Linked DNA regions of Homo sapiens: region 1 is linked to region 2. Evidence: fine-mapped expression QTL. A gene starts in region 2. The other region holds a variant in brackets. All regions are shown on one strand. Distances are from middle to middle. Region 1 has its middle 140 kb from the start of RHOU. Region 2 holds the start of H2AC25 (H2A clustered histone 25).

What was found. PIP is the estimated chance that this variant, and not a neighbour inherited with it, causes the effect. A credible set is the group of variants that fine-mapping cannot tell apart.
Region 1: its variant is the best candidate, but not a certain one, in a credible set for the expression of H2AC25 in whole blood (TOPMed, PIP 0.73).

The regions. Positions count from the first base shown.
Region 1 is chr1:228,878,604-228,881,521 of GRCh38, reverse strand. No RefSeq gene overlaps it. Among named protein-coding and RNA genes, the nearest start is that of RHOU, 140 kb to the right of the region's middle. The variant A/T (reference allele first, on the strand shown) is at 1,363.
Region 2 is chr1:228,456,012-228,458,894 of GRCh38, reverse strand. It overlaps H2AC25 (H2A clustered histone 25), which reads left to right and starts at 1,022. Exons shown (of 1, transcript NM_033445.3): 1 at 1,022-1,531. The coding sequence starts at 1,078. The coding sequence ends at 1,470. H2BC26 (H2B clustered histone 26) reads right to left here and starts at 792. Exons shown (of 1, transcript NM_175055.3): 1 at 337-792. The coding sequence starts at 765. The coding sequence ends at 385. RefSeq lists enhancers at 1-312, 313-899.

The DNA of each region.
Region 1 (2,918 bases), 420 kb before region 2:
TTGTTTCTGTCTCAGTGCTCTAGGAAGCCCCTGACAGTTCCAGAAGTAATTCTCTCAAACTGAGCCAGGGATGTGGAGATGAGAGACTGGTGCTTTCCATTTGGGAAAGTTGCTCAAGTTCTTGGGAGTTTAACTAAGCCTTCCTCTGAACTCAGAGCCGACTGATGGGCCAGCATGGAGAAGAGATCGATAAGACACTACAGTAGTTCTCAAGGCAGAGTGGACACAGGTTTCACACAGAGAACTTGCCAATATACCGATTTCCAGGACCCAGCATCTCCAGAGGTGCTGAGATGTCATGTCTATGGCAGGGGCCCAGGGATCTATGTGTTTAACAAGCTCATCAAATGAGCTTGATATAAATGCTCTGTAGGCCCCATTTTGAGAAACACTGACTTAGAATTATTCCATAATATTTATGTAGACTGCTAAGACCAGACACTAGAGATAAAAACATAAAATGTGTTTCCTAGTCACCAGCTGTATTACCCATGTCTTATTTTCTGTATTCTGATGCCGTGATACCTGGGGTCTTGCTGACCATGGCGGGACTGCCCCTGTCAGGTTACTCAATTTTTAGGGATAATAAACAACTTGTCTGTGAGCACACCTTTCATAACAAACCAACCAATCCAGAGCCCACACCCACACTGCCTTCTTTATTGGGGACACTGGATCATATCCACCTGTCTTAATCACCTTGGAGCCAGGTATCAGACAATTAGGGCCAGCCCCTATGCCCCAGAGTCCACGGAAATTATTCAAACTAGCCATTCTTAAGCCTAATTACACTGCATCACCCATTACTTACCATGGAAACCACACTAAAGATTCTTGCCCTTGTTTTTCCCTCGCTCCTTCTGCCTCCCGACCAATCCTCCTCGGTGCCCCCACCCCATTCATGGCATGATCCTTCCTCTTGGAACTGTGAGTAGTAAACTCTCCATCCAAAGGTGATCATCTCATAACCTATTGGACTTACTCTACCTCATATTCCCTACTAATACGATATGTTTTAAAATGCCTTGTGATATTGTGACTTATAATGAGAAATATATTTGGTCTTCATCCCAGTTCCTGGTGTAGAGCTTCTAAAACTTTTGGAATTTCCTACGAGATAAGAGCAATAAAGGTGAAAGGAACACCTTTTGTTATTCATAACAAGTCCCTTCCAATTACACTGTTTCTGTTCACGAGGTGATTTTTGAAAAGCCCAAAGGATGGGGGATCAGTTGCCAGAAGACCCAACCGTGTAGAGAGATGCAATTTCATCCCCACCCCTACCTTTTGGGGAGGGGAGAGGGGCTGGAGATTGAGCTAATCACCATGGCCAATGATGCAATCAATAAAATTTCCCTAAAG[A/T]CCCAAAAGAATGAGGTTCACAGAGCTTCCAGGTGGTAAACACATCCACATACCGGGAGGGTAGCACACCCAGGAGAATGCATGAAAGCACCGCACCCCTCCCCAATACCTTGCCCTATGCAGCTCATCTATCTGGCTGTTCCTGAGTTGTAGTCTTATAATAAACTTGTGATTTAGTAAGTAAATTGTTTTCTATGAGCTGTGCTAGCAAATTATTGAACCTGGGAAGGAGGTGAGGGGGATCTTCCAAATTATAGCTGGTTCATCAGAAGCCCAGCTGTCAACTGGACTTGTGGCTGGTGTCTGAATTAATGGGGGTGGGCAGCCTTGCAGAACTGAGCCCATAACCTATAGGGTCTGCATTAATTCTACGTACAGACAGCGTCAGCATTGAATTGAATGGTAGGATACCCAGCTGGAGTCCACAGAGAATTGGAGACTTGCTTGGTGTGGGAAAAACCACACACATTTGGTGACCAGAAGCAAGTGCTGAATATTGTGGGTATTAAAGAGGTTTTATTAAAAACAATATTTAAACTTATATTTTAGGTTCATGAATACATGTGCAGGTTTGTTATAAAGGTCAACTCATGTCACAGAGGTTTTTTGTACAGATTATTTCATCACCCAGGCACTAAGACTAGTACCCAATAGTCTTTTTTTCCGATCCTCTCCCTCCTCCCACTCTCCATCCTCAGGTAGATTCCACTTATAAGGGAGAACATGAGGTCTTTGGTTTTCTGTTCCTGTATTGCTTTTCTAAGGATAATGGCCTCCAGCTCTATCCATGTTCCCACAAGAGACATGATCTCATTCTTTTTTATGGCTGCATAGTTTTCCATGTGTCTATGTACTACATTTTCTTTATCCAATCTGTCATTGATGGGCATTTAGGTTGATTCCATGTCTTTACTATTGTGAACAGTGCTGCAATGAACATTCACGTGCATGTGTCTTCATGGTAGAATGATTTCTATTCTTTTGAGTATATACCCAGGAATGGGATTGCTGGGTTAAATGGTAGTTCTGTTCTTAGCTCTTTGAGGAATTCCCATGCTGGTTTTCACCATGGTTGAACTAATTTACACTCCCACCAACAGTGTATAAGTGTTCCCTTTTCTCCGCAACCTTGCCAGCATCTTTTATTTTTTGACGTGTTAATAGTAGCCATTCTGACTGGTGTGAGATGGTATCTCATTGTGTTTTTGATTTGCATTTTTCTAGTGACAAGTGGTATTGAGTTTTTTCCATATGTATGTCTTCTTTTGAAAAGTTCTGTTCATGTCCTTTGCCTACTTTTTCATGAGGTTATTTGTCTTTTTTTTTTTTTTTGTAAATTTGTTTGAGTTCTTTATAGGTTCTAGAAATTAGGCCTTTGCCAGATGAATGGTTTGCAAATATTTTCTCTTATTCTGTAAGTTGTCTGTTTACTCTGTTGATAATTTCTTTTGCTATTTTTTTATTCCTCTCAGACCTGCAGCTTGAATCCTAGATGGAGAGATACTAGTCATGAGTATAAGAAAATGACTAAGAATAAAAGATAATGGACTTAGGAT
Region 2 (2,883 bases):
CGAGACTTCTTCTAGAAAAAAAAAAAAAAAAAAAGAAAGAAAGAAAAAAAAAAGAAATCTCGTCGTGAGTTAATAGCTCTGCGCGGAGGGAGGGGATGGAGAGGGGGTCCTTGATCGCCTCCCAACATTACTGAGCTACATCACCTGAGCAGTTTCTACCCCGATTTCTGTAACGAGCAGTTTTTCTCGTTCTGTGCCGGCGCGCGCGCGCACACACACACACACACACACACACACACGGCTCAGATTCGGCCGCACCCGGCAACCGCTAGGGTGCATGGAGACACATTAGGTTACATAACCCTTCACCGTGTTCGAAACCCTTTCTTGATCGTGTGGGTGGCTCTGAAAAGAGCCTTTGGGTTCAGGACGCCGAGGAACGCCTCACTTGGAGCTGGTGTACTTGGTGACAGCCTTGGTGCCCTCGGACACGGCGTGCTTGGCCAGCTCGCCGGGCAGCAGCAGGCGAACGGCCGTCTGCACTTCGCGGGACGTGATGGTGGAGCGCTTGTTGTAGTGTGCCAGGCGGGAGGCCTCGCTGGCGATGCGCTCGAAGATGTCATTGACGAAGGAGTTCATGATGCCCATGGCCTTGGACGAGATGCCGGTGTCGGGGTGCACCTGCTTCAGCACCTTGTACACGTAGATAGAATAGCTCTCCTTGCGGCCGCGCTTGCGCTTCTTGCCGTCCTTCTTCTGTGCCTTGGTGACAGCCTTTTTAGAACCCTTCTTGGGCGCAGGAGCCGATTTGGACGGGTCTGGCATGATGGCTGAGTCTCTCCAAACAGAAACGCGCGGCGCTCGGAGTAACTCTATTTGTACGTTTTGTATTCAAATGAAGGCTCAGGATTTGCTCACTTCTGATTGGATCAAACGTTGTTCTACGTCATCGCTGGGAAAGGAATACGCAAATTAGGAGTGCCAGGTTCTTTTTCTGATTGGCTACCATAGCCATCCAATCGAACGCCGCGGTCTAGCCTACCTCTGTACCATACATAAGGGCTCGCTGGCCTTCACTGCCCTCTTGTTTTTAGTCTCGCTTTTCGGTTGCCGTTGTCTTTTTTCCTTGACTCGGAAATGTCCGGTCGTGGTAAGCAGGGTGGCAAGGCGCGCGCCAAGGCTAAGTCGCGCTCGTCGCGCGCGGGGCTGCAGTTCCCCGTGGGCCGCGTGCACCGGTTGCTCCGCAAGGGCAACTATTCGGAGCGCGTGGGCGCCGGCGCCCCGGTCTATCTGGCCGCGGTGCTCGAGTACTTGACTGCCGAGATCCTGGAGCTTGCCGGCAACGCGGCGCGCGACAACAAGAAGACGCGCATCATCCCGCGCCACCTGCAGCTGGCCATCCGCAACGACGAGGAGCTCAACAAGCTGCTGGGCCGCGTGACCATCGCGCAGGGTGGCGTCCTGCCCAACATCCAGGCCGTACTGCTGCCCAAGAAGACGGAGAGCCACCACAAGGCCAAGGGCAAGTGAGGCCGCCCGCCGCCCCCGGGGCCCCTTTGATGGACATAAAGGCTCTTTTCAGAGCCACCTACTATCTCGAGAAAAGAGCCGCACTGATCCTGCAGTTCTTTATAGGCCGGAGGCCTGATCACCCTAGGCTCATGAATGAGCGCAGTGGCCATGGGGAAGGGCGCAACGGGAACCGAGACCCTGGGGACTGATTGGGCTGCATACTTGCGAGGTGGGCAACGTGTTCTGTTAACAACAGGGAACCCTCGTCCACAGGTGGCCACCCCTTGCTCTTGAGTCCCACCCAAAACCTCTAGTAGGGTTTTAATAACGCTCACCGTAAAGGTGTCTTCATAATTACTAGTGACAAGTTCTCTTGACTCTAGCAAGGTTCCCGTGTGGTCATCAAGTACAGAATGCAATTTCTTAATGATTTATCTGATATTAAAAGTATTTATGATCTCTAAGTAGTTTGCACTTTAATTCTGAAGAGTAAGTCTATGGATTTCTATTTAAATTGCTAAGTTTTAACAATGTGAGCTCCACCAGTGTTAAGATTTAATTTATTTGGCTGGGAATTCTAAAGGTCATGAGGAAAGTTTCAGTACTTAAAAGGAACCAGATTAGTAGATGCTGAAAGGTATAAACCTTTTAAGAAGACTTAATTTGGAATAGGATAATTATTTAAAGGAATTTAGTTTGTTTAATTCGGGTTGGTCAAACATTAATCAAAGATCCCCTTAAATTGATTGCTAAAATTGGAGAACAAAATAATTTGTACACTGTTTTTGAAAAGGAAAACTAAATTTGCGAGTTAAGCAAATTTAAAATGAGTATTGTTAGAACCAGATGAATGATGATACATGTGGACTTTAGGAAAATAACGGTTTGTAACTACATTTTTCCTTATAAAATGGAGGGTTTAAGAGCGTCGGAGACCTCCAGGCAAATTAACTGAAATGGCTGTGTTAATAGCCCCTAAATCCTGGAGGAGAGAGGTTCATTGATTTAATCCACGATAATCCCTTAAAAAATGTTTGCCACAAAATCAGAGCTCAGAAAGTGTTATTCTTCTGTTGTTATCTGTACAGTTTTCATTAATCTATTTCTCAAAATATGGATAATTCCTACTTTGTTTTTATTTTTTCTTTAATCCCCAAAGTGCTAGTATTTAGTTAATTGACACCTAACAATTGCATATTATATGGGGTACATAGTGATACTTTGAATACATTTATTATCAGATCAGGGTAATTAGCAATTATTAAGTATTTATTGTAATAATAAATACAGGCCAGTAAAATTATTCAGGAATATTATATAATTTATATTTACCCTACTAAAATTGGGTCTACTCAAGTCAGGGCTTCCTGGACACCAGCTAACCACAAATCTGCATGTCTTTAGAAAATATCCCAGTGCTATGAAACTATT